4 linked regions of the Homo sapiens genome follow. The protein of the gene in region 1 purifies or fractionates together with the protein of each later gene. This does not show direct contact. Each region holds a gene or a part of one and is shown on either strand. Other genes may lie near its edges.

Region 1 (7,819 bases):
CTTCAAAACTCACTATCGCCTTGAGCTAATGGAGAAGGACCTTTGTGTGAAGGGCTGGAACTGGGGGACAGTGAAATTTGGTGGTGAGTCCTGGGGAAGACTGAGGTTTGGGGAGGAAGATAGGGTGAAGGGTTTCAGCCTTTTACTTGTTTTGCTCTTTTCCCTCTGCCACTGTCTCTGGTTTCCTATCTATTTGCATGTTCATCATGTGTTTATTGAGTACCTACAGTATACTGCCTGGGGTTGGGGTTATAGTCTAAACAGACTAACCGCAGTATCCTGTCTCTGTGGAACTCAGTTTGGTGGGAATATTGCTTATGCAGACTTAAGGGGAGGAGCTTGTGGCTGGATAAGCCCTTTCCTCACAGGGCAGCTGCTTTCCTTTGACATTGGTGACCAGCCAGTCTTTGAGATACCCCTCAGCAATGTGTCCCAGTGCACCACAGGCAAGAATGAGGTGACACTGGAATTCCACCAAAACGATGACGCAGAGGTGTCTCTCATGGAGGTGCGCTTCTACGTCCCACCCACCCAGGAGGATGGTGTGGACCCTGTTGAGGTGAGGCTTCCCCTGGTTGCCTTGGCAGCAGATGGTGCTGAGCAGGCATTGGCTGGCCTGGGAGCAGGGCCTGCTGCTTGGCTACCAATATGTGCTTTTGCAGGCCTTTGCCCAGAATGTGTTGTCAAAGGCGGATGTAATCCAGGCCACGGGAGATGCCATCTGCATCTTCCGGGAGCTGCAGTGTCTGACTCCTCGTGGTCGTTATGACATTCGGATCTACCCCACCTTTCTGCACCTGCATGGCAAGACCTTTGACTACAAGATCCCCTACACCACAGTACTGCGTCTGTTTTTGTTACCCCACAAGGACCAGCGCCAGATGTTCTTTGTGGTAAGCAGAAACCCCTATGGCCGGATAATCCTGGTTTTTGCCTAAGTGTTAAGTAGATGGATCTCACTGGTGTGCAGAATTCTACGTTGGTTAATTGCAAGTTGTTGTAGAGTGTCAATTAGTACTCTTCCTTACTAGATCAGCCTGGATCCCCCAATCAAGCAAGGCCAAACTCGCTACCACTTCCTGATCCTCCTCTTCTCCAAGGACGAGGACATTTCGTTGACTCTGAACATGAACGAGTGAGTGTCTCCCTGGACTCGTTTCCTACCACTGTCCAGGCAGGAGACAGGTGTGCCATTAGAAGGCAGTAGTGTTGTGACCTCACCTTGCTTTCTTTGTAGGGAAGAAGTGGAGAAGCGCTTTGAGGGTCGGCTCACCAAGAACATGTCAGGATCCCTCTATGAGATGGTCAGCCGGGTCATGAAAGCACTGGTAAACCGCAAGATCACAGTGCCAGGCAACTTCCAAGGGTGAGAGTGTGGGCCTGGGATCCTGCCCTGCCTGGGTATGGGAAATGCCGTGTCTCCTTGGTAAACCCTTCCTGAGATGGGAATGCGGCCTCCTAGAGGCCTGGATGGGACCTTGTGTCACAATAGGTGCCAGCGCCTCTGTCAGAACAGCTCAGTGAGGTTTACTTAGTCGAGGACATGAGCACTCGTGTCGCTGCTGCTAGATACGCCCTTTGCCTCTGCTGAGGTTGGCACTAACCAGGCTCCCTGCACCCTCTGTCAGGCACTCAGGGGCCCAGTGCATTACCTGTTCCTACAAGGCAAGCTCAGGACTGCTCTACCCGCTGGAGCGGGGCTTCATCTACGTCCACAAGCCACCTGTGCACATCCGCTTCGATGAGATCTCCTTTGTCAACTTTGCTCGTGGTACCACTACTACTCGTTCCTTTGACTTTGAAATTGAGACCAAGCAGGGCACTCAGTATACCTTCAGCAGCATTGAGAGGTGAGAACCTCCACCTGTCACTTCCTGGGCATCCTGGTCCCGAGCCAGCTTTGTCTAGGAAGGCTGGCGTGGCCTGGGGCACTCTCCAACCCTAGAGCAGAATTTTTCTTTTGCTACATCAGGATTTGGTCCTTTTCCCTGGAGTGCTCAGACTTTAGAAACCTCTCCATTGCTTTCTTTCTGGTCATTAAAAAAACAAAACAAAACAAAACAAAAAAAACTTTTTCCGTATTCTGAAAGCTATATGTCTTCGCTACTGGTCTTTTTTCTCCTCCACTCCCCACCATGATGGAAATGCTATCTCTTTCTTTCCTGGAATGAGCTTTGTGCCTGAGAACATAGCGGCTAATGCTTATTGAGTGCTCACTGTGGACTAAACGTTTTATAAGCATCTTCACGTGTAATCCTCATATCAACCTTGTGAAGTATGAAAAAAGATGACCACGTCCCCTGCCCCACACTTACTCCCCTCTGAGCTTATTTTGTAAACAGATGCGCACCCCTCCCTGCCTTTCCTTTCCCAGAGTTCTTCAAAGCCATGCAGTTCTTTCAGGACTAATGTCTGGCTCTGGCTCTGCCTTACTGCTGTCCTCTGGGGGTTTCTAAGCTGTTGGGTTGGGTAGCATAGTCAAGAGCTCCAGGCTCCACAGTCTACCCCAGCTCATGGAATCAGAACATTGTTTAGTGTGCCCCTGTGTTGGCACTACCTCTCTGGTAACATGGTGCATGTCCCCTCACAGGGAGGAGTACGGGAAACTGTTTGATTTTGTCAACGCGAAAAAGCTCAACATCAAAAACCGAGGATTGAAAGAGGTACTTCTGTGTGGGGAGGATGAGACCCTCTCCTGGTCTTTCTATAGGGGAGAAAGGGGTGGAGATTTTTTCCGGCTTCTTTTTCACTCTTTCTTCTCTTCTTACCCTTATAGAAAAAAGAGGTGCGTGTGACCCTTTCCCCCTCCTGGTGCAGGTTTCCTCTGCATGACCTTAGACCAGTCTATGCAGCCCCTCAGGAGCCCCCAGTGGGGCTGGGAGAGGGAGGGGCTTGGGGCTTGGACTAACCCAGTTGGCAGGAAGTACTTGGGCATAGGCCCTGCACGTTGGCTGTGTGTGGACAATCCAGCCCCAGGTCTTCTGGGAGCTGCTGCTCTGACTTGACAGGCATGGGGGTGTGCTTTTGAGTGTGCAGGGATTCTGGCTCGAGGGTGAGTTGGCCCCACCGTGAACTCTTCCCTGGCTAGGGCATGAACCCAAGCTACGATGAATATGCTGACTCTGATGAGGACCAGCATGATGCCTACTTGGAGAGGATGAAGGAGGAAGGCAAGATCCGGGAGGAGAATGCCAATGACAGCAGCGATGACTCAGGAGAAGAAACCGGTGGGTTAGCCTCCGTGCTGAGCACGAGGATGGTCAGACGCTCCTCGCTGTGGCCCGGGCTGGACTCACCCTTGGGCCAGAGCTGGGTGCCTGGGTGAGGTGGGGGGATTTCCATTGGGGCAGAAGCTGATGCATCCTGTGCCCTTTTTCAGATGAGTCATTCAACCCAGGTGAAGAGGAGGAAGATGTGGCAGAGGAGTGAGTTTTGGTGGTACCTTGTGGGGATAAGATGGTGACCCATAAGCTTAAGGGACCAGAAGATTTCTGGACATTTCTCAGGTCCCAGCATTAGCTACTGACCCAGAATGGGAGAGTGACCTCCAATGAGGTGATATACGAAAATGTTTTGGAAATTGTCAAGGGCTTTGTAAGTGCAAGACATATTTTGAAGTCGGAAAAGTATAGTGGGATCTATGGCCATACCGCCCTGAATGTGCCAGTTGGGGCTGGTTCGTAGTTGGATGAGGAGAGAATGGGAATGAGCTGGTGCTTGCCACTTACTTGCTGGGGGTTGTCGAGTAAGTCATTGAATCTCAATTTCCTCATCAGTAGAAATGCAGTAGTACCCCTGCTAAATTGGTTAAGACTTTTTGTTAGCAGTGTCAGAAATGTGATTCACTCTCACTTTAAAAGGGAACATATAAAAGGGAATTTCATAAGTTCATATTACTGCGGAGTCTGGGGATTTAATTGGCTTCAGACACTACTGGATTCAGGCGCTCAAATCTATTTCTTCCGATTTCCTTAATTAAAAATAGGTTTACCCCATGGGGTGCCCAGTGACTCTCAGAAGCTCAGGGCAGGCTTAATCCTACTGGTTTAAAACAACACCAGAAGTGCCTCTTTTGGTGAACAGCATAGTGAACACAGTGGTTACCTGCCCCTTTCTAGCCTGAGTTATTAGAATGGGCTGGGGTCTGATGGGCCAGAAATAGGCCAAGTGCCCACCCTTAGAGCCTGTGGTTGGGGTAAGCCCTTCCTGAGTGGGGGCAAGGTGGTTCCCAACAGAAAATTGGGACTCTGCTCTCTTAATCCAGAAGGATTGTAAAAGAATGTCGGGCAGCAAAAAAAACACCCAACAGGAGTCCTCTAGTTCAGCCTGCCACATGCTTATGAAGGTTTATGAAGGTTTAATGAGCAAATACTTGTGAAAGTGCCTTGAAGACTGTCCAGCAGCATACAGGTGTAAGGTAGTTGCATTGTTTGAGGAGTTTCACATATATCAGACAAGACTGTCAATTACAGGGGTAGGCACTGGGTTGGACTGAAGTTGGTTTTCCTCTTTTTGTAGTAACTGATTATCTTTTCATCAGAAGACTGTAGGGGCCAATCCTTTTGTAGTTCATAAACATAATGGTTGGGTGTTACGTGCGTGTGTGAAATGTGCCACCCTCCAGCCTTGTTACGATGTTGACACATTACCCATCTGACATGGAAAAAAAAAGAAGACAAAAAAGACTATAGGGTAGATTAAGGTGATTACTCCGAGGGAAGTGGTGAAGTGGATTTGGGCCATGTTCCAGGCATGAATGAGGCAGTGTTTCTGCCAGTGGTGTCCTGGGGATGGACTAGGACCTGGTTTGGCCATGCCCAGGGAGATCCGCTGAAGCTCATTGATTTGTTTTTCATTCATTAATTCCAATCAAGTAACCAATTGCTGTGGCTGGGTCTGGAGAGGGCATGGCTGAAGCCACCACAGTGAATGGGAGAAAGCAGTGTTGGGGATTGGTGGTGGATACTGTCCTCTGGTCTTCCTCCCTTGCCCCTTTTGGGTGGGTATCTTTGGATTTGTCTTCCTCCTGTCCTGAGGCCGTGGGGTCCTGTCTTCCCTCCTCAAGTCTAAGCCTGGCTTGTTCTCTGGCAGGTTTGACAGCAACGCCTCTGCCAGCTCCTCCAGTAATGAGGGTGACAGTGACCGGGATGAGAAGAAGCGGAAACAGCTCAAAAAGGCCAAGATGGCCAAGGACCGCAAGAGCCGCAAGAAGCCTGTGGAGGTGCAGACTGTAGATGGGAGGGCCTGTGTGTGGTGCAGTGGGTGGGGGGCGTGGGAGGCATTCTCTTTACCTTCTCCTGTCCACCACCAGTAGGACCTGTTCTTCCTTGGGGCTGTTTTTTATAGCCAGTGATTATAGCCTTGAGGGTTATCTTCTTGGAAATTTTTCTCACTAGCCCTGAGATTAATAAGCTTCTGGAAGGTCTGAATTAGGAGATGGGCTTCTGTCCTGGTAAGCTAGGCACTGAATTGCAGAGGGGAAGGAGATACTATCCTTGCCCTTAGGGAGCTCTCGTCTCGCCTGATGCTATTTAGTCCTCCACTTTTTCTCCAAGTTAAGTGATCTAAATAATTTATTTGGGAAAATGTATGGGTTCTGTGGGAAATAGCTGAAGGCATTTGGGTTCTTATGTAGGTGAAGAAGGGCAAAGACCCCAATGCCCCCAAGAGGCCCATGTCTGCATACATGCTGTGGCTCAATGCCAGCCGAGAGAAGATCAAGTCAGACCATCCTGGCATCAGCATCACGGATCTTTCCAAGAAGGCAGGCGAGATCTGGAAGGGAATGTCCAAAGAGAAGAAAGAGGTGAGTAGCAGCAGAGGAGGGGTGATGCCTCTCATGGGCTGGCGAGAGGTGCTGTCTTGGGGTGGCGAGTCTCATGACTGATAGGGGAGCAGTATGAGCCATTGGTGGGACTTTCTGTATCGATTTTGCCTGCATCAGGGGAGAGGGGAGATGGGAGAGGTCTTATTCTTAACTGTTTTTTTCTGTGTGTGAGACAGGAGTGGGATCGCAAGGCTGAGGATGCCAGGAGGGACTATGAAAAAGCCATGAAAGAATATGAAGGGGGCCGAGGCGAGTCTTCTAAGAGGTGAGTGTCGAGAACATGGCCCAGTCACTGATTTTTGTGGCAGACTTTTTTTTTTTTAACAGGCCGAAGTTGAGCATTGGAAAGTTAAAGACAGCAGAGATGCTTCTGACTGCAGTAGGGTAGTGCTTCTCAAACCTGGGTAGGCCATTGCCCAAGTATGGGTGACACAATAGGGCATTCAAGTCACTGGGGAAATATGGCCTCTTTTCCTGGACCATTTTATTTGAAGGTATGGGGGAACGAAAAAAATACTATTATGGAGTGCAGTGCACAGTTTGCATGAACTCTAAAAGATAAAGCAAGAAATATCAAGTAGGTTTTGCACATTGGGCTGCTTTAGGCTGTGCCCTCTGATTCTTCTGGTGTACTCATGATACTCTCCCTTGGTGCCCTCCAGGCTGACGCAGCTATTTACGTTCAGAGTGAAATGGGCTGTGTGGCTGGGATTGGGAAAGGCCTTGTTAAAGCTGGGAGAGGTTTGGTCATGGTGACAGGGGACCTGAAGGCCCAGCTCCTCTTCCCTCTTGCCAATACAGGGACAAGTCAAAGAAGAAGAAGAAAGTAAAGGTAAAGATGGAAAAGAAATCCACGCCCTCTAGGGGCTCATCATCCAAGTCGTCCTCAAGGCAGCTAAGCGAGAGCTTCAAGAGCAAAGAGTTTGTGTCTAGTGATGAGAGCTCTTCGGGAGAGAACAAGAGCAAAAAGAAGAGGAGGAGGAGCGAGGTGCGGCAGGAATGTGGGGCCTGTGGGCTGGGCAGGGTGAGGGGCATGTGTGTCTGTGTGGGGTTGGTCTGTAAGAGTAATGAGTTGGAGTGGATGGTGGAATTCTGAGGTTCTGAAGGGGGGTGCTGTAGTTGGGGGCGGTAGGGAATTGCGGGCCCTTCACTGAAGAGTGGGTGGGGCACCCAGGACTCCAGCTTTTCCCTTAAGACACCTTTGGTTTTCAGGACTCTGAAGAAGAAGAACTAGCCAGTACTCCCCCCAGCTCAGAGGACTCAGCGTCAGGATCCGATGAGTAGAAACGGAGGAAGGTTCTCTTTGCGCTTGCCTTCTCACACCCCCCGACTCCCCACCCATATTTTGGTACCAGTTTCTCCTCATGAAATGCAGTCCCTGGATTCTGTGCCATCTGAACATGCTCTCCTGTTGGTGTGTATGTCACTAGGGCAGTGGGGAGACGTCTTAACTCTGCTGCTTCCCAAGGATGGCTGTTTATAATTTGGGGAGAGATAGGGTGGGAGGCAGGGCAATGCAGGATCCAAATCCTCATCTTACTTTCCCGACCTTAAGGATGTAGCTGCTGCTTGTCCTGTTCAAGTTGCTGGAGCAGGGGTCATGTGAGGCCAGGCCTGTAGCTCCTACCTGGGGCCTATTTCTACTTTCATTTTGTATTTCTGGTCTGTGAAAATGATTTAATAAAGGGAACTGACTTTGGAAACCATGTCCTCATGCTTTCTTTGTAGCCTTGGTGTGTTGCTCCCACTTTTATTGGTGGTGTTTACTGCTCTGGTCAGACTGGGCAGGGCCTTCCTGGCCAGCCGGGAAGCAAGTCTCGAGGTACATCCTGTTCTGTTCCCGGCTGGACGAGCATTGGTTTTCACCCGCCTCTGCCCGGATGGGCCACCTGAGAGTCTAGAAATGAGAGCTGATCTGATTAGGAAGTTTCTCCCAGTTACACTCCATTAGCCAACCAAGCTAGGGGGAGGCAGCTCTTGGCTGCATCCTTA
Region 2 (7,819 bases), on another chromosome or scaffold:
AGCCTGACCAACATGGTGAAGCCCCTTCTGTACTAAAAATACAAAAATTAGCCAGGCGTGATGGCATGCGTCTGTAATCCCAGCTACTCAGGAGGCTGAGGCAGGAGAACTGCTTGAACCCAGGAGGCGGAGGTTGCAGTGATTTGAGATTGCCCACTGTACTCCAGCCTGGGTGACAGAGCGAGACTCTGTCTCAAAAAAAAAACTCATCTCAATTAATAAAAATTAAAGTTCTTCATTATCATTTAAGACACAGTTCATATTCAGATTTTAGGTAATTTTAAACAGGAGTCAGTTATTGAAAGCTAATTATTCCAAAACACAGTAAAAATCTATATGTGATACATTTAAAGGAAAATGGAGAGGTGGAAGGAATTCTCTCACCATCATCCCATGAAACCTTTTGAAGAGACTTAAACTGTATCTACGCCATGTCATACGTTTTATTGATAGAACAGGCTCAGTGAGTGATCCTCTGTAATCCTGAAGATTACAGAATGAGCGAGTCTTTATCTAGGACATAGGTTATAAATATGGGTTAATTTTTAAAGACTTTGAAATCAACTAGGAAGAATAGCAAGAAATTGCTATCAGGAATTAAGATGGAACATGATAAATAACAGCTTTCCCTGATACTTTAGTCTACATTATTCCTTTTTTGAACTTCTATTGTATAACTGTATGATACAGTTTAAAATTTTATTATGTAACTGTTAACCTAGAATGTTTTATGTATCTTAAACTTCTTTTTTTTTTTTTTTGAGAGGGTGTCTCACACTGTCACCCTGGCTGGAGTGCAGTGGGGTGATCTTGGCTCACTGCAACTTCCGCCTCCCGAGTTTAAGCGCTTCTTTGCCTCAGCTTCCCGAGTAGCTCGGATTACAGGGTCCCCCCACCACGCCCGGCTAATTTTTGTGTATTTTTAGTAGAGATGGGGTCTCACCATGCTGGCCAGGCTGGTCTTGAATTCCTGACCTCAGGTGTTCCACCTGCCTTGGCCTCCCAAAGTGCTAGGATTACAGGCGGGAGCCACTGCACCCCATCTTAAACTTCTTTTTTTTTTGAGACGAAGTCTTGCTCTGTTGCCCAGGCTGGAGTGCAGTGGTGCGATCTCTGCTTACTGCAAGCTCCAGCTCCTGGGTTCACACCATTCTCCTGCCTCAGCCTCCCGAGTAGCTGGGACTACAGGCGTCCGCCACCATGCCGGGCTAATTTTTTCGTATTTTTAGTAGAGACGGGGTTTCACCATGTTTGCCAGGATGGTCACGATCTCCTGACCTCGTAATCCGCCCGCCTCGGCCTCCCAAAGTGCTGGGATTACAGGCAAGAGCCACCACACCCGGCCGTAAACTTAAAGATATAAACAGTATCTTGCTGATGGTGAAGGCTATGGTATTTGAAATAATTTTTGAGATATATGCAGTCTTTAATAGATAATTTTGGAAGGTCAGGCAAAGATGTATTTTATCTTTTCTTAAAGTTTTCATTACCTGAAGCTGATCCTTTAATTAACATTCACAAGGTATTAATCATCATCCCCAAATTAAAGAGGTATTGAAGCTGTGTAATTTGGAAACATTGTCCACGTAATTGTTACATGCTTTAAAGTGTTCTAAAATTAACTCTCACCTTACATTTTTAAAATTAGGCAACAACTGTACAACTTGGAAACCTTGTTACAGTCCAGTTGTGATTTTGGTAAGTTTAAGGTGTGTTTAATGCAAAAGGGAATGGTGCTTCATTATAGTGAGTTGCACATGGGTCCATGATGGTATAATTGGCATATCATGATAATACAGAGGAAGCATTAGGCCAGAAGTTTACGAATTTAGTGTTCAGAAAAGTATGACTTTTTAAATTTTGTTGTAGCTGAGATATATAGTATTTTCCCAAATCTGTAGATTTTAAAGGTAAAACCGACTTAAGCTAAAATTCTCTGAAGAGAATTAGTACTTGTTTTGGAGGTAGGGAGTGGGATAGAGAACTTAAATGAGAACTAAACAGTGCCAGACCTCATGCTGTCTTCTTGATTTTCTTTTCTGCTTTCTGCTTTTGTGTTTGCTTTTGGTGTGTGATGGATTACTGATTTTTTTTTCTTTTGTTTAGATTGGTATAGTTGGTTTTTTTTTGCTTTTTTTTTTTTTGATAGGGAGTTCTGCTCTTTTGTCCAGGCTGGAGTGCAAAGGTGCCATCTCAGCTCACTGTAACCTCTGCCCCCCGGGTTCAAGTGATTCTCCTGCCTCAGCCTCCCGAGTAGCTGGGATTATAGGCACCTGCCACCACCCCCAGCTAATTTTTATATTTTTAGTAGAGATGGGATTTTGCCATTTTGGCCAGGCTGATCGCAAACTCCTGACCTCAAGTGATCCCCTGCCTTGGCCTCCTGAAGTGCTAGGATTACAGGCATGAGCCACCGCATGTATAGCTAAGGTAATAAAGGGAATTGAAGGGCAGTGTGTTTTAGTGCAGTCTGGCTGCTTCTCCTTTCTAGTAATTTTGGTGCAGTGCAGTGTTTAGAATCATGGCCTTGTCACCCTGGCTTCCAACCCTAGCTAATTGTGGGTCTTACGTCAAGTAATAGTTCTAACTTTGTTGAGCGTGTTAAGTGCTTAACACAGTGTCTACCATTATTGATGCCTAGCAACCAAAGACTACCTGGAACACTTTTGGTCAAACAGAGGTTTATTAGATTATGAAAAAAGGAAAAATACACATTACAAGGAAAAGCTGGGGCTTGTCAGTAAGAGGGAGTAGGAAGGGACTTGTGATATGTTTGGGGCTCATTCTGGTGATTTTCCGTAGGGCTTAAGGGGGATAAGGCTATATTCTGGATTGGATGCTGTTAATTAGCAGGGGCAATTTGAAGAGTGGGTATTTTAATTTTTATCTAGGAGGTGAGACAAACAAAGGGAGCATCCTAATTAGTAAAAAAGTATTGTCCTGGTCACTGGAAGAGGGAGGATGTGTTTTTTTGTTCATTTTGTGTGTGTGTGTGTGTTTTGTTTGGAGTGTGTGTGATTGCATAGTGCCATGTTTTGTATTCAGACATGGTTACAGAGGTTTTGTTTTTGTCTTGTTTCACTGTAATGGAGTGGCCCTGTATCATTATTATTTATTATTATTATTATTTTTTGAGATGGAGTCTCGCTCTGTCACCCAGGCTGGAGTGCAGTGGCATGATTTTGGCCCACTGCAACCTCCAGCCCCCTGGGTTCAAGCAATTCTCCTGCCTCAGCCTCCTGAGTAGCTGGGATTACAGGCGCACACCACCACACCTGGATAATTTTTGTATTTTTGGTGGAGATGGGGTTTCACCATGTTGGTCAGGCTGGTGTCGAACTCCTGACCTTGTGATCCACCCACCTCGGCCTCCCAAAGCGCTGGGATTACAGGCGTGAGCCACCGTGCCTGGACTATTTTTTATGTTTTATGAAAATTGTTTATTTTCAGTAGGGGATACCATGGCCTAGCTGTTAGCTATCAGCTTTTAGGCTGTTTTATATTTTTTGTTTTCTTAATATGTTACGTGATTTGTAAATGTTAAGTATTATTGTTTCATTATCATCTGATGGGTCCCTGGTTCATGCCAGGTACTTTGCAAGGTACTGACGAATCAAAGAGGAAAAATATGCTGCTGATGAGTTTGCAGTTGTGTAGACAGCTAGACATGCAAGCATACATCAGCTTGGTAAATGAAAAGGTACGGTGATAAAGGAATGTACAAGCTGCTGTGGAAGCCAAGGGCTTTGTCTATCTGTGAGCTCCTCACTAAATGATGCCAGATCTGGGTCTTCACAGATGGGAAGAAATTAGCTAGGCAAAAGATTTGGGAAAAGTTTTTCGGACAGGAAGAATTCCAGGCAGAAAAAAATAAAACTGTATAAACAAAGACGTGATGTGTGTAAAAACATAAAAGTTTAGAGAGCATGGATTAAATATTAATTACATATGGTTGGATCAGAATGTGTGTGAGTGATGAATTTGGAAGGGATAAAAGCAGAGTTGGCTTTGTAAACCATGACAGAGAGTATGATTTTTATTTTGGAACTCCTGTGGAGCCACTAAAAGATTATAGTGGAAAGAACCAAAATACCTTTACCTTTACGTAGAATAACTTAAGTAAATTGGGTTCATGGAAGGCATTTATTATGATAGATTATTATTATTACACTTATTAACCTGAAACCACTGCAGTGGACTATTTGTTAAGATGGTTGTTTGTTACACTGACATTTTGGCTGTTTTTGTTGCTTAAAAAAGCTTTTAATGACAGATTTTGGACAAGTTAGTGGTGTTAAATATTATCCATACATGAACATGTCCCTGCCATGTAGCTGTGTTCATTAACTTGTGTAGCTACCCTTGGACCTCAGCTGTGCCAAGAAGTCCCTATGTAGTTACTTACTGCCAGATGAGTATAGTTCTTGTTCTAGCCATTATGCTTCCAGGGTTAATTTCCAGTTGAGGCAGAATAACATACTTAATGACATGTTTTGCTGACAGCTGTTTTTTTTCTCTCTTTCCGTCTCTTTGTCTCTGTCTCAAGACAGGGTCTCACTCCATCGCCCAGGCTGGAGTGCAGTGGTGCGATCATGACTCACTTCAGCCTTGACCTCCTGGGCTCAAGCAGATCCTCCCATCTCAGCTTCCCAAGTAGCTGAGACTACAGGCTCACGCCATCATGCCTGACTAAAATTAATTTTTTGTAGAGATAAGGTCTCACTATGTTGCCAAGACTGGTCTCAAACTTCTGGGCTCAAGTGATCCTCCCGCCTTGGCCTCCTAAAGTGCTAGCATTATAGGTATCACCCACCACACTCAGCCAAGAGCTATTCTTAAATATAATTGTTGGTGTTACCCTGTCTCAGCTATTGTGTGTGTGTTTTTTTTCTCTAGACATTCCTTATGGATTTTTTAAAATGTCTTCTGTTTCTGACTTCATGCTTGTTTTCATCCATCTTGAATATATGGAGTATACATTATAACCACTGTTGTTGCTGCTATTAATAATTCTTCTTTTTGAGAGGGCATCTTGCTCTGTCACCAGGCTGGAGTGCAGTGGCGCCATCTCGGCTTACTGCAACCTCTGACTCCCTGGTTCAAGCAATTTTCCTGCCTCAGCCTCCCGAGTAGCTGGGATTACAGGCACACGCCACCATGCCTAGCTAATTTTTGTATTTTTAGTAGAGACAGGGTTTCATCATGTTGGCCAGGATGATCTTGATCTCCTGACCTCGTGATTCGCCTGCCTCAGCCTCCCAAAGTGCTGGGATTACAGGCGTGAGCCACCATGCCCGGCCAATAATTCTTTTATCACTGTCATTTCTGAAACTATTTGTATTGATTAGTTTTTCTCCTGATTCTGTGATATATTTTTCTGCTTCTTTGAATATATAGTAATGTTTTATTGTTAGATGAACATTGTGGGTTTCACATTGTTGCTTTCTGGATTTTTATTCCTTAAACTAGATGTTGAATTTTGTTATGGGTCGCTATTGTGTAGTTGTAATCCACTGGTTCTTCTTGAGGCTTGTTTTAAATTTTGGTAGGACTTTTAAAAAGCAGCCTTTAATGTTAACTTAGCCTAGTAAATTAGTCTAGTAAGGCTTTGAGAATTCTTTCTCGTGCGTAGTCTATTATGAGATTTTTTTTCATGCTTGCTGGTGAGAACTTGAACTATTCCCTGGCTTGTGTACTCTTTATAGGGAATTGTTTTCTGGTGTTTTTCCCTGGCGTTGGGTAATATTTTTCATGCTTGAACAGATCGATACTTAAATCTCAGAGGGACACTTCTGTACCCTTCCAGAACTCTATTTTGTATAGCTTCTTTCTTCTTGGGTACTTTTGCCCTGCAAATTTGGACTTCCCTAAACTTGGATCCCATATCTCCTCATCTCAAAGAGTGAGTTGGGCTGTATTTGGGTTCTCTTCCTCATATTGAAGCCTGGAAACTGTCTCTAGGTGGGGAGCTGGTACAGTTGTAGGGCTCAGTTTCTCTCTGGGAGAGCAATCTTATATTGTCTTGTGTCCAGAGCCTGAAAACTTGCTTGACGTAATTTTTATGGTTTTCAGCTTTACAGTGGGAGATGGAGCAATCTGATTATTTTACTCCGTCTTGCCTGGATGCAGATGTTCACTGCAGTTATTTTTAAGAGAGTACTGCCTTAATGGGCCGAGAATTGTGAAAATTGGGATGATATGACTTTTTATGGGTGAAATAAAGCCATAAAAATGCAGTTTAATATGGAGGTATTTACACAACTGCTTCACACTTATGCTTCTATTCTGCCACAGTAGTGGCATGATTGTTCATTTGAATTAAACTTTAGTTTCATGTTTAGTATGGCTGTAAATTTGTAGCCTATAATTCTCATCATGTTTTCTTTGCTTTTGTTTACTAGATTGTCTCTTACTCATTCTCTATATAATGATTATTAGTGTTTTGCCCATAGTAACTACCTAGATAATTATTGCTGATATAAATGCTGAAGTAAGTGAGGGAAAGCTGACATGGAGTGAGGTTGGGAGAAAGGCAGCAACTATTAAAAGGTCGTTCAGAGCTTTATAAATTATTATTAGGAGTTTTGATTTTATTCTAAATATAATAGGTATTCTTTCAAGAGTTTTGACTTGGGAACAAGATAAATTGATATACATTTTAAGCAGATTTTTTACTTAGTGTATAGGGGGACAAAAGAGAGCATGGAAAGACCTGTGAAGAGTGCTATTGTGGTGGTTTAAGTGTTTATAGGGAAAATGGATAGTTTCAATGTATATTTGGTTATTAACTTAATAGGACTCTGAAGGATTAGATACGAGGTTAAAGGAAATGCAAGAATCAAGAACCATATAGGCTACTGGTGGCACCATTTTATGAAAGGCTGAAAACAAGGACAGCATCAACAGGTTTTGAAAGAAATCAAAGGAGGTATTATTTGCACTGTCTGAGCAATCCAAGTATAGGTGTTAGGCAGTTTAACACGGAAGGTCTGGAGTGCAAAGGAGAGATGGGGTTGTAGATAACCCTTTTAGAGTCATTATCATTTATTAATAAAGGAACTGATGAGATCATACATATGGGAAGAGATATACAGAGAGTAGAGGATTCAGGACTGAGTCTTGAAGAGACCATATTAATAATAGAATTGAGGAGGAGGAGCCAATAAAAGAGGTAGGACAAAGGATACATGAGGAAGAAAGAAGACTCATTATCTGGCACCATGAAGCCAGGTGTAGCTAGTGCTACTGTGGGAGCAAGTTACTTGAGGGTAGGCACTGTCTATTAGATTGGGCAATGTGGGTGTGATTGGTGACTTTAATAAGAGCATTTTTTGAGGAGTAGCGGGGAGCAAGAACCATAAGAGAATGTTTAATATAAAATGTTACAAGATAGAGAATTGCTGCCGGTATGGCTTACAACATTTTTTGTCACTGCCCATGATAATTATTTGAACTATGATTAACATTGTCTATTTTGGTTTCAGGGAAGGTATCAACTCTACACTGCAAAGCAGACAATATTAGGCAGCAGTGTGTACTATTTCTCCATTATGTTAAAGTTTTCATCTTCAGGTAGGATATCAGATGAGTATTTTGATCACTGCATGAATTTCTGTGTGTATTCACACAGACTCTAGTTGTTTATTTTATCTAATTATTTTTTAGGTATCTGAAAGTACAGAATGCTGAGAGTCATGTTCCTGTCCATCCTTATGAGGCTTTGGAGGCTCAGCTTCCCTCAGTGTTGATTGATGAGCTTCATGGATTACTCTTGTATATTGGACACCTATCTGAACTTCCCAGTGTTAATATAGGAGCA
Region 3 (7,819 bases), on another chromosome or scaffold:
TGGCTCTCCCAACTACCCTAGACCACCCAGGGACCTGCAGAATGGGAACCCCAACTCCCCGCTGTTGAGGGCCTGCTGCTCTCTGTGCCTATACCTGCAAGGTGGCTTGGCCTGGGAGCCCCATGGCAAGCTGGCGCAGGCCTTCGGGACCCAGGTGATTGGAGGAGAGGTCAAGGAGGGCCAGGCTGGGCATGGTGCCCAGGGCAGCCACCAGCTCAGCCACACACTTGTCCCCCAGCCGGTTCCCTGCCAGGCGCAGCTCCCGGAGTGCTGTGTGCAGCTTGAGGGCCCGCAGCAGGGGTGTAAGCTGGGCCTGGTCCAGGGCCAGGGAGCAGGCGCTGAACGAGAGGCCCAAGCCCTGGAGCTCCACGGCCTGCAGCACCTGTTGGTGCTCCCCTGCGGGAGGGATGTGATGTCACCAGGGTAAGGCCGGCCCTTTCTGCCCTCTGAATCCCAGAGGGCAAACCAGGCAGCCCCTTTTCAACAGCCCCAGGGGTCACCCACCAGACTTGCTGTAGAGCCCACTCGCACATGCCTGTGGGTCTAGCACTGTGAGGCCCTGGGGGCCGGGGTGGGTCTGCAGCACCCTGAGCTCCACCAGTCACTGCCAGATTCCACACCCCCCGGGACAAGCTTTCTGGGAAGCTTCCCCAGCAGCTCCCAGCCCATGCCAGGCCCTCCTCCTTGGGTTTGACTTTCCAGGCTTTCGGCTGCTTTTTGCCATCTCCCTGTCAGCAGATCATGGGGGCTGAGGGCTGTCCTCTCCCTTCCACCCACACATCCAAGTGCAGGACACAGCACCCACCAGGCTGGGGGAGGTGCACCCCAAAACACCCGAGGCCCAGGAATGAACCGGGCTGGTGGAGCCTGTGTGCCCAACCCCCTTGTACGACCTCACCCAGAAACTGCAGCTCTCCTGGCCCTCACCTTGCCCCAGGCTCTGGCAGGCCCTGCGGTAGCGGTCAGTCAACGGGGGCAGGTCCCACGAAGTCACCTCAGCCAACACCTGGAAGGCACCGTCATGAGCCACCTGGGGGCTCCCCCGGCTCACCTCATCATTGCTCTGCAGCCATGAGCCACCCGGGGGCTCCCGGTGCCTGAGGCCCTGGCTCCCCCTCCGCTCTGCGGCTCACCTCGTCATTGCTCTGCAGCACATCAGGGATGAGGTCCTGTGGGGCCAGCAGGGCCCCCTCTTTCCGTAGGGTGAGCCTGGGCAGCAGCCCGCAGGTCTGGTAGTAGCGCTGGGCCGCCTGCTCGGCCAGCCAGGCCACAGAGTGGGTGTCACTGCTGCAGGGACAGAGGCGCTGCTGCTGCTGCCTGCACACAGCCGGGGTAATGCCCCAGGGACCCGCCATCCCTGCCCAGGGCCAGAAGCCCCCTCAGCTGCTTCTCCCATTCCCAGGTAGCCGGCCCCTCCTCTCCCTGCAGCCCAGCACACCACCAGCCCCTCTGCTATTCCTGGGGGCCACAGGATCCTCCTGGAACACACCAGGGAGCCCTCGTCACACGCCCCACCCTGACATGCAAACACGAGCACCCTGGCATGGAGCTGCACAGGTGGGCTGCGGGGTAGGGCAGGCGATGCCTCACCTGTGTGGGACAGGGATGAGGAAGAGATGATCCTGAACTTGAACTCGAACCCGGATGGGAGGGGGCGGGGCCGGACCCTGGCAGGTGAAGGCAGCAGGGCTGAGTCAGGAGCCACAGTGGGCTCCACCCTACACCTGCCTGCCCGGAGTGGGGAGAGGGCTCTGCTCCAGGTCTGCATACCCACCAAGGGCTGGCCTGCCGCAGAGCTGTCCCCACTGGGCTCTGAGACCCTGGGGGTGCTGGGGCTCCCTGGAGGTTCTGAAGCCAGGCTGCTGGGCCCTGCGTTAACTGGCGCACTGCAACTCTGCATGCAGGTCAGGCGGACCTGCTTGGCTCGGGCACGGGGCCTGCTCTCCTCACTGTCCGACCCAGAGGTACTACTGGGCCTGCGGTTGTCTCCAGTGCCCCGGGGGCGGGGCCGGCGGCTGCGGGTCAGGGGCATGTCCAGCTCCAGCCAGTCCCCGGCCAGGCACTCCTCCTCCGGGATGAGCGCTGCCTGGGGGGCAAGGGCTTTGCTGTGGCCCCGCGGTGGGCCAGGCCCCAGCCGGCTCTGAGCACTGCCCACACCCCGGATGGCTGCCTGGTAGGCTGCCCGGCTGGTGCTGGCTGTGGCTGCTTCCCTGTTGCTGGCGGGGCCAGGCGTCCAGGCTGCCACCCGTTGTGCTGTGGCCGAGCACCGAGGCCTCTTCTGGGACGGCCGTGCGGGGCCTGCGCTGTCCTCGCCTTCTGAGCTGCTGCTGCTGCTGGCTGGCCCATGCCTGCTCCTCCGAGGCCTGGCCATGGCTGGTGCCGCCTGCCCTGGGGAGACCCTGACATGGGCCTGAGAGGCCTCTGGGAGTCTAGTGCTATTAGAGGGGGGTTCTGGGCAGGGGCTCAAAGGAGGAGAGGTCTCGGGGTCAAACAGAAGGCTGCTTGGGGTGTGGAAGGCCTGGGAGCTGTGGGGATCTGTGGGAGAGAGAATGCGTGTTGAGGCAGGGGCCCGGCACCTCCCGCTCCACCTGTGATGGAGCATCTCCCGAAATCAGGGCCCGGGGACTCTCAGCGTAGGCACAGCAACCCCAGGGACAAGGGACGCCCTGCTTGCCTTGGCCCGAGGCAGCCGCCTGGAGCAGCATCTCCATGGCCCTGGCCTTCTGCCGCGTCTCCAGGTCCAGGTCCCTGCGGTACAGCTTCACCCACTGCTGCAGCGTCTCCAGCGGGCTGAGGCCCTGTGTGGCATCAGTTGAGCAGGGGCACAGCAGCCCCCATAACCTCGCCCTTGCCCTCTGCCCCACCAGGCTCACCTTTCGAGTGCGGAGGGTGACGGACGCCCCCCGTTCAAGCAGCAGCTCAGCCACCTCGAAGTGGCCACAGTTGAGGGCATCGTGGAGGGGGGTGATGCCTTCGCAGCCCTGGCCACCTGGGTCGTCCACTGCGGCCCCGTGGTCCAGCAGGAAGCGGACAATTTCTGCAGACCAGGAGACGTAAGCCCAGCTCCCGATGCCCCGCCAGGACTGACTCTTCGCCCCACGTGTCCACCAAGGTGCGCCAGGCTCCTTCTGTCCCTTGCTCACCTAGATGCCCGTAGTTGCAGGCCTCGTGCAGAGGTGTCCAGCCACAGTAGTCCCGAGGGTTAAGGGGGTGGCCCTGTGACCAAGGACAGGAAGGAGCCTGGCCCTGTGTACCTCACAGCCTGGCCCCAGCCCCGTGAGCTCTGCAGCCTAAGCTGAGCCCAGGGCCTCAGTCTTAGAGCCCAGAGCAAGTCCGTGGCCCTGCCCTCTCCTCCTCCGGCCTAGGTGTCACCAGTGAAGGACATGCTTCCCCCTGAGACAGGTGGACCAGCCACAGCATATCCTCCGCCTCTGTGCCTGCCCGGTCCCCTTGTGGGGAGACAGTGCACCTGGTCGCAGGGGCATGAGGCAGGCGGGGCGGGAAGGTGCCCAGATCTCAGCCCATGGGCTAGCCCCCATCCTGGCCAGGCTGACCAACTTAGCTGTAACACAGATGCATACCACACAGCAGGTACCCCATTTTTTTTTTGAGACCAGCCAGGCTGGTCTCAAGCTCCTGACCTCGTGATCTGCCCACCTTGGCCTCCCAAAGTGCTGGGATTACAGGTATGAACCACCGCGCCCAGCCTGGGCACCCCATTTTTTTGTGTTTTTTTTTGAGACAGAGTCTCGCTCTGTCACCCAGGCTGGAGTGCAGCGGCGCAATCTCATCTCACCGCAACCTCCGCCTCCCAGGTTCAAGCGATTCTCCTGCCTCAGCCTCCCGAGTAGCTGGGACTACAGGTATGTGCCACCATACCCAGCTAATATTTTTGTATTTTTAGTAGAGACAGGGTTTCACCATGTTAGCCAGACTGGTCTCAAACTCCTGACCTCAGGCAATCCGCCCGCCTCAGCCTCCCAAAGTGCTAGGATTATAGACATAAGCCACTGTACCCGGCCTGTGGCTTTTCTTCTGAGACAGGGTCTTGCTCTGTCACACAGGTTGGAGTGCAGTGGCAAGATCATGGCTCACTGCAGCCTCCACCTCCTAGGCTCAAGCAACCCTCCCACCTCAACCTCCAAAGCAGCTGAGACTACAGGCACACGCCATCACATCCACCTAATTTTTAAATTTCTTGGAGACAAGGTCTTGCCAGGGTGCCCAGGCTGGTCTCGAACTCCTGGGCTCATGTGATCTGCCTGCCTTGGCATCCCAAAGTGCTGGGATTACAGGCATAAGCCACCCCGTGCAGCCTCCGCTTTTTAAATTTTTTTGAAACAGGGTCTCACTGTGTTGCCCAGGCTGGAGTGCAGTGGCATGATCGCGACTCCTGCAGCCTCAATCTCCCTCCCAGGATGAAGTGATCCTCCTGCCTCTAGGACCACAGGCAAGTGCCACCATGCTTGCTAAGGGGCCCCATTTTGAAGATGAGGAAGTTGAGAGTTACAGAGATAGGGGATCCGGCACAAACGCACAGCTCCTCCATGCTAGGCAGCCTGTCCCACGTCCCAGAGCGGGGCCCACCTGCCTCACAAGGTCCTGGACGCGGCGCAGCTGGCCCTCGATGCAGGCTCGGTGCAGCAGGGTCTCCCCCATGTCGTTTCGCCGGTTCCACTGTGGGCACAGCCAACCCAGCACAGGGCAGGGGCGTGAGGAGCTGGCAGGGCTGCTGAGCGGGGTGGGTGGGGGCAGGGCACTGTCCTCACCTTGCTCCCCTTCCGCCGGCCCAGGTGGCCCTGAAGCTCCTCGTCCTCCTCCAGCTGCGGGGTCAGGCCATCGGTGTCGTCCTCTGGAACAGAGCCAAGCCCACCCCAGGGGAGTCCGTGGGAGGTGAAGGTTAGCAGCCCCCACCCTGCTGCAAGCTCCCCAAACTCCCAGGTACAAAGGAGCCAGAGACGGGAGGGCTGAGCTCTGAGGCTGCTGGGCTCTGGGGGCTCCTCAGCAATGGTCCCAGCGCTGCCTCCATGTCTCCCTGACCCTGCTGGGACCCTGCTCCTGCCCACCATCCCTCTGCCCACTTGAGACACACCCCTGAGCTTTCTGCCCTAACCCACGCCTGGCCCTCCCACAGAAGGCCTGCCCGAGGCCCCCTCTGTCCATGCGCCAGCCACTCATCCCCACGCCCAGACCGGCTCGTGGGCCAGTCTTCCTCCACCCCACGCCTTATCCACCCCCATCTCCTGAGCTGTGTCGTCAGGCCAGGTCAGCCCTGGAGCCTGGGTATCCTGCACCTTGCAGCCTCCACCCTGCCTAGGCAGCAGACACACCCGCCTCCGTCCCTGCTTCGGGTGACCCCTCATCACCACGCCCTTCACACCCTGCCAGCTGCCTCTGGGTCTTTCCGCAGCTCCTCACTGTGCCCACCAGCTGAGCAGCATTCCCCAAAATTCTAGATCCTGATCCACCTCCCCCCAGCAACCAACCTGGCAAGGCCCCAACTTCCCACAGCTGCCTGGCCACTCAGGGTTCTAACGACGCCCTCGAGTTCAGAGCTGAAGTCACAGCCTTCCCTGGAACACCCCCCAACAGGCCTCATGGACAGGCTCCTGCCACCCACCACTCAGTCAGAAACCAGCCTCCCAGCTACCCGCTAACCCCGCTCTCAGCCCTCTCTCCCTGCACCACGGCCAAGATGGCTTCAGTCCAAGCCCCGCTCCAGCCAGTCCCTCATGCCTGCCCTCCGTGCAGCTGATGTCGCCAGCCTCTGGAGGAAACCCAAGCCTGCTCTGAAGGGTTTCAGGAAGGTGCTCAGCTCTTGCAGAGGCAGCCGGGGCTCTTCAAAGTGCACCGTCTCACCCCTGGCCCCAGATGGCACGTGCCTCTCTAACGGGACCATGCCCCAGCTGACACTCACTCGACTCCCAACCACTGTCTCCTCCAGGAGGCCAAGGCCGCCCCAGGCTCCCTGCGGGTCACCACCTTCTCTGTCCAGTTCCGGGAAAGCACTGGCCGTCCTGCCTGCCTGTGGCTGTTCCTGCTACAGCCCTAAGCAGGCTCCACAGCAGCACAGCACACCCCTCTCCAGCCCGGCCCAGAGCAGGCCCAGGGAAATGCAAGGTGCCGCTGGCCCTCACCGCCCTCTGAGAGCTCCACCTCGCCGGCCTCCAGGGCTTCGCTCTCCGCTGTGGCTGCCGCCTCCTCCGCCTCCTCCTCCTCATCTTCATCTTCAGCTACACTGAGCTCCCGTAGTCTGGTTTCGGTCTCAGGGGCCTCCTGGGGCTGCAGCCTCAGCTGCACGGTATGGAGATGCTGCAAGACCTGCCTCTGAGGAGCAGAGGGATGCTCAGCTCAGGACTGGGGGCTGTGGACGCAGAGAAAGATGGGGATGGGGCACAAGGGGCAGGCAGGCTGCAACGAAGCTGGGCTCACCGGGGAGCCAGTATGGGTGGGATGGGCTCTCGCACCTGCAGCTGGGGACGCTGGGCCTGCTGGGCACAGCTGAGCGCTTTCTGGAAGCACGGGGCCAGCAGCTCGTAGGCATCGCCGGCCTCCTCGCGGGACAGTGCAATGTTCAGCCAGGTCTTGGCCTCCTGGAGCAGGAGGAAGGACAGGGTCGGGGGCTGCCGCTGTCTGCGTCCAACGGGCCCCAGTCAAGCTTCCCCGGCTGCCCAGACGAAATGGGAGCCCGGCCTCCCAGCTGCCGAGGGTGGATGGTCCTAGGAAGGAGCTGCCCGTCCAGTAAGGACACCTGTCCATGGCCACCCTGAGAACGGCAGTCCTGAGGCAGAGACATGGGTGAACCTGCATTCGGGCGGGGAGCAAGGGTTTCACCTCCAGCACGTTGCCGCTGCGCAGCCTCAGTTCCTCCTCATAGTGGCGCACGGCCCCATGGTGGTCCTTCATGTCTCCCAGTGTGGTGGCCAGGGACACGTGGATGATGGCCCGCTCAGCACCCGGTCTGTCCAGCAGCTCAGCAAAACGCAGCTGGGGGCAGTGCCAGTGAGGCCAGGGGCTGCCACCCTGGCCAGGCCTCGTCAACCTCACTGGCCCTTCCCTCCCACCCAGCCGGGGCCACACACCTGCTTCTGGTAAGCCTCAGCTGCCCTGGGAAAGTCTCCTGCCTTGGAGAAGAGGTCCCCTAGCTGCTCACAGATGACCATGGCACCCTGAGGGTCTCTGCCCTCAGCCTCTTCCAGCTGTTGCTGCAGCCGGACCACTGCCAGCACTGCCGGGAAGAGGTTCATGCAGGGGGGCAGCACAGGGGGCCCTGACCCCAGCTCTACCACCTGCAAGCTGTGAGCCCTGTGGTGGCCCCCCCACTCTCTCCACACCTCTGCCTGCCTGTTGGTGTGGGGGTTAATAGCAGGGTCTATCTTGGGGACTGGTCTCAAGGGTCACAAGAACTAACACACTTAAAAACTCGGGGCCAGGTACAGTGGCTCACGCCTGTAATCCTAGGACTTTGGGAGGCCGAGGCGGGCAGATCATGAGGTCAGGAGATCGAGACCATCCTGGCTAACATGGTGAAACCTCGTCTCTACTAAAAATACAAAAAATCAGCCGGGTGTGGTGGCGGGCACCTGTAGTCCCAGCTACTCGGGAGGCTGAGGCAGGAGAATGGCATGAACCCGGGAAGCGAAGCTTGCAGTGAGCCGAGATCATGCCACTGCACTCCAGCCTGGGTGACAGAGCGAGACTCCGTCTCAAGAAAAAAAAACAACACAACATGGATGGTGCCTGGCTCAAAGTAAGGGCTGACGGCTGCCAACCTCCAATGGTGGTCTCTGCCATCAGCACTCCTGGACCACGCGTGCCA
Region 4 (7,819 bases), on another chromosome or scaffold:
ACTACATTATTTCTTGGAGTGTATTAAAGTTAACTAAATTCGAACTTGGCAAATGAAAGGCAGTTTAGGAGCTGAAAGCATGGGTTATAGTTTTTACAGAAGTAGAATGTATAAAAATTGAAGCTATGTCTTATGGTTGGTCGTTGACATTTTATATATTTATAGTGGTGGGATTATCCACTTCCTGTTTTGTAAATACCAAAGTATCAGCCACTTCATATTTGCACCTAAAACTTCCATAACTGCTTTGAGTGCTTACACCTACTTATAAAACATCTAAAGCTATTCTTAAAAATGGATTGAAAATGTTTTATGCCCTTTACTGTATACAAAGGGAAACCATATTAAGAGTAATTTTGAAGGGAGTGTATCAGAACCCATGTTTGAAGTGGCTAAGTTATAAATGAAAATAAATGCTTCTATGTTTAACTATTATCCTTTCAAAAGATAATTATTGCTTGTGACATTGTCCTTTTGCACATTGTTCTTGGAAAACGTCAAGGTTAAACAGAACCAATGTGCCACATTTGACACTATCCAGAAGTCACTGGTGTTTGTGCATCACATTCATGTCATAGTTACTTAAGTAGATTGCCATCCAGCTTAATAAACTGTCCTTTATGAGCATAATTTAAAATTACTAAATATTAGTTTCATTATTTGTCTATGTACATAACTTGTTTGGACCAAATTGGTCAGGTCTGCTGAAACATGAGTTGTACATTTTGACAAAGTTTTCATTTTAATTACTCGGTTAAGTGCCCAGTTGGATGAATTTCTGTAACAGTTGATGATTCAGAGACCTAGGATAAGTTGATAACCTAATGATGCATTTCTCTTATTCAGGATAAAAGAAGTAAATGAGACTAACAAACGAGTAGAACAGGAAATTAAAGTGGCCATTTTCACCCTTATCAATGAAATTAATAAGAAAGGAAAATCTCTCTTACAACAGCTAGAGGTATGGTTCAAAGCCAAAATAAAACAAAAACTGCTTCTCTTGCTCTTTAGCTGTTTTTAATGTTTATTGAAAACTATTTTAGATGGATTGGGGGGTATGGAAATAAAGGAAAACGTAAAATAAGGTTTTTAAAATTTACTTTTGGAAGAGACCTTTTCTAGTTAGTTACTTTGCGGCCCAATTTAATAACACTGACTTTAGCTGTATACCTTAGGAAATAGTGATGTCCTCTTAGAAATCAAATAATTGTTACTAAGACTGGGTATGGTGACTCACACCTGTAATCCCAACACTTTGGGAGCCCAAGGCAGACAGATCGCTTGAGCCCCGGGATCCAGCCCAGCCCAGGCAACATGGCGAAACCTGCCTCTACAAAAAATACAAAAATTAGCCAGGGTGGTGGCATGCACCAGTAGTCACAGCTACTCAGGAAACTGAGGTGGGAGGATCGACTGAGCCCGGGAGGTCAAGGCTGCAATGAGCTGTGATTGTGTCCTGCACTCCAGCCTGGGCAACAGAGTGAGACCCTGTCTCCAAAATGAAAAACAGAAAAAGAAAAAAGAAATGTTACTAAAATGTGATGTACGTAAAGGCAAAGTAGTCCCACCACATTTCTTCCCCACCCCCTTAAGATGGGGCCTCAATTTAATTTTACCATATAGATTCATGTTGGGCTTCTGCTTGAGTCATTTGTGTATTTTACCTTATTTTAAAAATATTTCCATAGTTTTGCAGAAAATGCTGCTCTTTTTGAAATTTATAAACCTTAAACTTAGTGAAAATTTTGTGATATTAGGTATTTATATTGCATATTTTGAAGTTTATTTGTAGGTGTAAGTTTCTAGATGAAAATCTAGTCAGTTCATGAAATCTAAATTTTTAATCAAAGTCTCCACTGCCGATTTGATTTATTTTTAGCAAATTTCAAATAGGAGTTTTCTGGGAAATTGAAGTTTCAGAAAGAGAAATGTTTCCTGATTGAAAATTTCATGCTCTGGAAAGTTGAAATTTTGGAAAGAGAAATATTTTCTGATTGAAGATTTCATGCTCTTAACTAGGTTCAGATGATATGGGGATTATTTTTTCTGCACCATTGAATAGTAATAATGAAATGATTTATTTGATTATTTCCATTAACCTCAAATTGTCAATAGTTTTTTTTTTTTTCTGTCCCATCTCTTCATAGAATCCTTTAAAAATATTAGGTGAATAATTACATAAAAATGAAATGATGTCAGTAGAATGTTATCTCTGAATGGAATACATCTTTCCAGTGAAACACAATTTGTGAGATTAAAAGTACTCTTGGCCGGGTGCGGTGGCTCACGCCTGTAATCCCAGCACTTTGGGAGGCTGAGGTGGGTGGATCACAAGGTCAGGAGTTCGAGACCAGCTTGGCCAACATGGTGAAACCCCATCTCTACTAAAAAAAAAAAACAAAAATTAGCCAGGCGTGGTGGTGTATGCCTGTAATCCCAGCTACTCAGGAGGCTGAGGCAGGAGAATTGCTTGAACCCGGGAGGTGGAGGTTGCGGTGAGGCAAGATTGCGCCTCCGCACTCCAGCCTGGGCGACAGAGCGAGACTCCGTCTCAAAAAAAAAAAAAAAGTACTCTTGTGCAGATTGTTAAAGTTGTGGGTCCCTTTTCCTACTGTACACCAGTCTGTTGCATTTAACCCTAATAGGTTTTTCCCCCCAAAAGGACCCATGTGAATAGAGAGCACTTAGTAACTATTTTTGATACACTTAAACTTACTGTAATACATTTGAGCTGTACGTCTAAAATAGTATTTGTAAAACCATTTCAAGAGTTTCTGAATTAAAAGATGCTTCTTAAGATCCCTTGAGCCTGGGAAGTGGAGTTTGCAGTGAACCAGGATTGCACCACTGCACTCCAGCCTGGGGGACAGAGTGAGACTCTGTTAAAAAAAAAAAAGCCTCTTAAGGCTAAAGTGTATACAAATACCTAATGGTAAATACGCCACATACTACTAACATGATGATAAATTTAAAATAGATGTTTTCTAGTGTAATATGTTCTTATACTTTGTAGAAGAAACGTTTTTCTAAGCTTTATAAAAGAAATGTAGTAAACCATACTTCTCTCAGTTGAATACTCTTATCCATTGATTTACATTATAAAATGAACAGCTTCTTTCCTTAGGAAAAATATTGTCCAGAAAAACCAACTTGAGTCATTTTTGGGAGAAAGTTCTTAAGAAAGTAGTAGATGAGTTGTTCAGCATGCTGAATGTCAAAAGTATGTAGGACATTACCCATCCCTCCTGGGGTGATTTTAGTTCCCATAAAGCAGTTTATTTTTCCTTTGCAGTGTTTCTCTGAAATTGGTTTTTGCAGTTTGGTCAGTCCTTACTTCTTTGTTCTCTGTGAACTTCTGTGATATCAAAAGTTTCCCTAATTCTACTCTTAGAACTCTGGAAGTTATCTTTTTCATTTTGTCTTATATATTTAAGAGAGATTTTAACTTCATTCTCATGCCATACCAGGAGGTGGCACTGGTGACACAAAATTTTTTTGGCCTTTAAAGTATATTAAGATTACATAAATTTATTTCTAAAGTTAGCTCCTTATGCTATAAATACCATATATTAGATTAATCTAATAGGAAGACACTATTTTTAACAGACATGTTGATAGAAAAGTGACATTAACTAACATTCATTTCTATATGTGGAATATCCTTTTTAGCTTAGAGAACTGACTTTTAGTCCCACTTTTGTTAGTGGCTTTTCCTCTGATGATAGGCTTGCTAAATAATCATGGAGCTTATTCACTTAGCCCATTTTTAAAGGAAGTATAGGTATTGTGCCCATTTGCATTAGAAATGTGGGGTTGATTTTTTTTCATATGGAATTCTACAGCGAAGCTCTTGTTCTGTTTCAGAATGTTACAAAGGAAAGACAGATGAAGTTACTACAGCAGCAGAATGACATCACAGGCCTTTCCCGGCAGGTGAAGCATGTTATGAACTTCACAAATTGGGCAATTGCAAGTGGCAGCAGCACAGCACTACTATACAGCAAGCGACTGGTGAGACACATACTGTTTTTATTTTTCTTTAATGGACTTTATTAAGATATATATTCAGTGAATTGCACCTGTTTAAAGTATACATTTTAATTTTGGCAAATGTAACCACCACCACATCAAGATACAGAAAACTTCCACCACCCCCCAAAGTTTCCTCATTCCACTAGGCAGCCACTAATCTGATTTCTGTCATTTTTTAGAATTTCATATAAGTGGAATTATATAGTATGTACTCTTTTGAAGATACCTAGTATCTTAATGCACTTTATTACCCAAAATGGCAGAAATTCAAGTATGTATATTTGATTTGATTGCTAATTTAAATGTTGATGCTGCCTAATCTGAGGCTGACACTGTGGGAATATATGTGCTTTTTTTTCTTAATGTCTTTATCTTATGATTTCCCAATTGATATTTAATTTTGAGACTAATGTGGATTTTTTTCCCTTTAAGATTACTTTCCAGTTGCGTCATATTTTGAAAGCACGGTGTGATCCTGTCCCTGCTGCTAATGGAGCAATACGTTTCCATTGTGATCCCACCTTCTGGGCAAAGAATGTAGTCAATTTAGGTGAGAAATAATGAGTTTTATGAATATAACTTGGAACACTGAATTAGAAGGAGAAAATACTTAAAGCAAATTTAGATAAAATTTTTAACTTTATAAAACTAATGTTTTACATTTTATGTAAAAATATGTTGTTATTCATTGGAAACTCACTTTAGCTGTGGTTTTGTGTGGCTGTTATTACATCTTAAGAAAGTTGAGCGTCTACTCTGTATATTGTTTTTTAATGTGTGCTGTTTCTAGTCCCCCGACCCTCCATCTTTTAAATTTATATTGACTGTTTCATATAGAAATCTTAGCAAATGATTCATTGTCTGGAATAATTTCATAGATTTTTAGTTGTTTAATTAAGCCAAATTGTGCATTAGCAACAGACTTTTAGGATGCTAATGTGTCCAGTAGTTAGGTCCTGAGGAATGTTTGAAAGATAAGAGTAGCTCTTTTCACATGGAAGAGAAATGGATTTTCCTTTTGTTACAGCGTAGTATGGACCTAAAGACCATAGATGAAAGTTACAGAGAGCTCAGTTAAAACACATGCACACAAACTTCCTAGCAATTAGAGAGCTATTTACAGATTGAGTAAACTCACTTTCAGAACAGTTAAGTCCTAAACAGTGGGAATTGTAAAAGCAGAGGCTGGTTGCCCTTTTTTTTTAAAAAAAAAAAAAAAGTAATCTTTGCATATAATAAAAAAAAATTATATTCAAATTTAGCTATAGCCTTAGTTCTGACATCAGCCAGCTGTTTTTGTGTGACGTAGTAGCTAAGAATGGTTTTTACATTTTCAACTGGTTGTAAAAGCAAACAAAAACCAAGGACTGTGAGACAGATCTTATGTGGCCTGCCAAGCATGAAATATTTACTCTATAGCCCATTACAGGGAAAGCCTGTCAACCTGTGCCTTAAATCACATCTTCCTAAAATTTGGCTTCTATCCCTAGAAGGCAATGGCTCCATAAAAAGCAAGGAAAACCATCACGTCTAAGGATATAAGTTGTTTAAAGCATTCAGTATTTCCACAGAAGACGATTTTGTGACATTGTAATGCTCTGCCTTGCATATTTTGGCAATTCAAAGGCAGATGGAATCAGTATTGGCAATCTTGAGTATCCTTGAGTAAGTCTTGTCATGGGAGAATTGATTTAGATTGATTAGATAGGCCTCTTCTAATAGATAATCTCTTTTACTGTCTTAATTTTCTGTATGTCTAAGTAAAAAAGAATAAGGACAGAGAGTATATTTTTCTGAATAACCAAACGTCATTTATTCAGCTTTGGAATGTATTAAGTTTCTGATCATCATCATCATCTTTAAACTGACTCCATTCCCTGCTGTACTGTTGGAGCTTTGAGGTGCTGATAGTTGTCAGAGGAAAGAGGAAAACATGGTGATTACTCAACAAAGTAGATGATTTAGTTGATTATATGCAAATTCTCATTTTTTAAATTTTTCAGGTAATCTAGTAATAGAGAGTAAACCAGCTCCTGGTTATACTCCTAATGTTGTAGTTGGGCAAGTTCCTCCAGGGACAAACCACATTAGTAAAACCCCTGGACAGATTAACTTAGCACAGCTTCGACTCCAGCACATGCAACAACAAGTATATGCACAGAAACATCAGCAGTTGCAACAGATGAGGATGCAGCAACCACCAGCACCTGTACCAACTACAACAACAACAACACAACAGCATCCTAGACAAGCAGCCCCTCAGATGTTACAACAACAGGTAAGTATCGTGTTACTACATTATTGATAGAAATTATGAAGCCCTCAACACTACACTTTTTCCTATATAATTAAGTTACACATTTCAAAGTTACTAGCAAGACTGAGCAGAGTTCAAAAGTCAGAGTTTAAATATTTGCTATGGTTATGATGGTGATGTAAGGGAGCTGTGAAGAAAGGCAGTAAGTAAATTGTCTTGGGAAACAAAATTAATTCACTAATACTCTGAAAGGATGTAAGTTCTCATCCTTTCACATCAAATCTTTTTTGTTTTCCACGTATAATTTTGTGGACCAAAGGACCAGACTGTTTCTGCCTAGGATCTGATATGTTCCTTAGGCATTTGTTCAGATCTTTCCTATACCTGTGTGTCTTTTGCTCTCTCCACTGCCATCCCAATCAAAACTATTACTCCAGGATGGGATACGTTAATGTTGATACGCTTTAAACACACATATAGAGAAAAAGAGGGGGAACAGGTAAGAGAGAGAGAGAGAGACAAGGGAAATTAGGGAGTGATATACAAACTAGTCATTACCAGTCCTCTGGGGATTGGGGCTAGCGATAAGAATTATTTATACTTTTTACTTTATACCCTTTTATCTTGACTGAATTATTTTTATGATTACATTTTATAATTGAGATAAATTTATTTTAAAATTATTACATAAATTGCAATTTCTACTTTTTGTAGCCTCCTCGATTGATCAGTGTGCAAACAATGCAAAGAGGCAACATGAACTGTGGAGCTTTTCAAGCCCATCAGATGAGACTGGCTCAGAATGCTGCCAGAATACCAGGGATACCCAGGCACAGCGGCCCTCAATATTCCATGATGCAGCCACACCTCCAAAGACAAGTATGCCTAGAGTTACATTTGTAAGAATCCTACAATTTTAAAATTAAAAGACGTCATTTTCTTAATCACTTTTTGGGAGCAGGTCATTGATGTGTTTGAGAATTTGATTAATGCTGTATATCCTCTTGTCCCAGAAAAATAAACATACACATGAGATTTTGTATTTAATTTTAAGAGCTTTTAAAAAATGCTTTAAGTGCATCATATACTGTGGGTTAAGAAACCCTGATGTAGTTAACCCATTCAATTTGCAGAAGTGAAAAAAATCTAATGAGCTGGTGATTTTACCCACAATCACAAAAAGCAATGATAAAATAGCAAGAACATTAGTTTCCTGAAAATGCTGCTCTGCTCTTTTAATGTGGCTTTTTGATCCTAATATATAAAAAGGGCTTTGAGAGTAACAGAGCTAACTATATGTATTATTATTATTATTTTTTTTTACCTTTTCTCTACTCAAATATTCTTCCTTTTAGGATGTAGATACGCTTTAATAAGTGTGTTTAGAGACATGTTTTATAATCTTTGCCTGGTTATGTTTATATGGGAGATATGAGTATACAGTGAGGCCACTTTTTCATAGGATTTCTAGTTATAATAGAGTTTATTTTTTAACTCTTAGAATGATGTTTCTCAAAACATGTTTTAAAG

What was found.
Region 2: the proteins of SSRP1 (region 1) and MMS22L purify together in Homo sapiens (affinity purification with mass spectrometry; 4 studies listed by BioGRID and IntAct, with this or other methods). This does not show direct contact.
Region 3: the proteins of SSRP1 (region 1) and TONSL purify together in Homo sapiens (affinity purification with mass spectrometry; 6 studies listed by BioGRID and IntAct, with this or other methods). This does not show direct contact.
Region 4: the proteins of SSRP1 (region 1) and TRIM33 purify together in Homo sapiens (affinity purification with mass spectrometry; 3 studies listed by BioGRID and IntAct, with this or other methods). This does not show direct contact.

What each region holds. Positions count from the first base shown.
Region 1 is NC_000011.10:57,325,699-57,333,517, reverse strand, and holds the end of SSRP1 (FACT complex subunit SSRP1), read left to right. Parts: coding exon 1-83; intron 84-368; coding exon 369-559; intron 560-662; coding exon 663-893; intron 894-1,031; coding exon 1,032-1,135; intron 1,136-1,237; coding exon 1,238-1,366; intron 1,367-1,628; coding exon 1,629-1,850; intron 1,851-2,590; coding exon 2,591-2,663; intron 2,664-2,776; coding exon of another isoform or gene 2,777-2,908; exon of another isoform or gene 2,909-3,088; coding exon 3,089-3,227; intron 3,228-3,379; coding exon 3,380-3,425; intron 3,426-4,556; exon of another isoform or gene 4,557-4,659; intron 4,660-5,091; coding exon 5,092-5,221; intron 5,222-5,635; coding exon 5,636-5,806; intron 5,807-6,003; coding exon 6,004-6,092; intron 6,093-6,628; coding exon 6,629-6,815; intron 6,816-7,039; coding exon 7,040-7,111; 3' UTR 7,112-7,530; downstream 7,531-7,819. UniProt on the Homo sapiens protein: Component of the FACT complex, a general chromatin factor that acts to reorganize nucleosomes. The FACT complex is involved in multiple processes that require DNA as a template such as mRNA elongation, DNA replication and DNA repair.
Region 2 is NC_000006.12:97,272,728-97,280,546, reverse strand, and holds part of MMS22L (protein MMS22-like), read left to right. Parts: intron 1-1,648; coding exon 1,649-1,698; intron 1,699-7,484; coding exon 7,485-7,572; intron 7,573-7,665; coding exon 7,666-7,819. UniProt on the Homo sapiens protein: Component of the MMS22L-TONSL complex, a complex that promotes homologous recombination-mediated repair of double-strand breaks (DSBs) at stalled or collapsed replication forks.
Region 3 is NC_000008.11:144,433,884-144,441,702, forward strand, and holds part of TONSL (tonsoku-like protein), read right to left. Parts: intron 7,229-7,819; coding exon 7,083-7,228; intron 7,024-7,082; coding exon of another isoform or gene 6,988-7,023; coding exon 6,835-6,987; intron 6,594-6,834; coding exon 6,468-6,593; intron 6,328-6,467; coding exon 6,138-6,327; intron 6,011-6,137; exon of another isoform or gene 5,593-6,010; intron 4,900-5,592; exon of another isoform or gene 4,853-4,899; coding exon 4,770-4,852; intron 4,678-4,769; coding exon 4,588-4,677; intron 4,451-4,587; exon of another isoform or gene 4,345-4,450; intron 3,864-4,344; exon of another isoform or gene 3,816-3,863; intron 3,217-3,815; coding exon 3,144-3,216; intron 3,113-3,143; exon of another isoform or gene 3,038-3,112; coding exon 2,874-3,037; exon of another isoform or gene 2,868-2,873; intron 2,799-2,867; coding exon 2,675-2,798; intron 2,536-2,674; coding exon 1,775-2,535; coding exon of another isoform or gene 1,771-1,774; intron 1,737-1,770; exon of another isoform or gene 1,668-1,736; coding exon 1,591-1,667; intron 1,558-1,590; exon of another isoform or gene 1,288-1,557; coding exon 1,134-1,287; intron 1,007-1,133; coding exon 928-1,006; intron 397-927; and 2 more. UniProt on the Homo sapiens protein: Component of the MMS22L-TONSL complex, a complex that promotes homologous recombination-mediated repair of double-strand breaks (DSBs) at stalled or collapsed replication forks.
Region 4 is NC_000001.11:114,423,940-114,431,758, reverse strand, and holds part of TRIM33 (E3 ubiquitin-protein ligase TRIM33), read left to right. Parts: intron 1-846; coding exon 847-961; intron 962-3,864; coding exon 3,865-4,011; intron 4,012-4,464; coding exon 4,465-4,582; intron 4,583-6,035; coding exon 6,036-6,310; intron 6,311-7,003; coding exon 7,004-7,168; coding exon of another isoform or gene 7,169-7,188; intron 7,189-7,819. UniProt on the Homo sapiens protein: Acts as an E3 ubiquitin-protein ligase. Promotes SMAD4 ubiquitination, nuclear exclusion and degradation via the ubiquitin proteasome pathway. According to PubMed:16751102, does not promote a decrease in the level of endogenous SMAD4.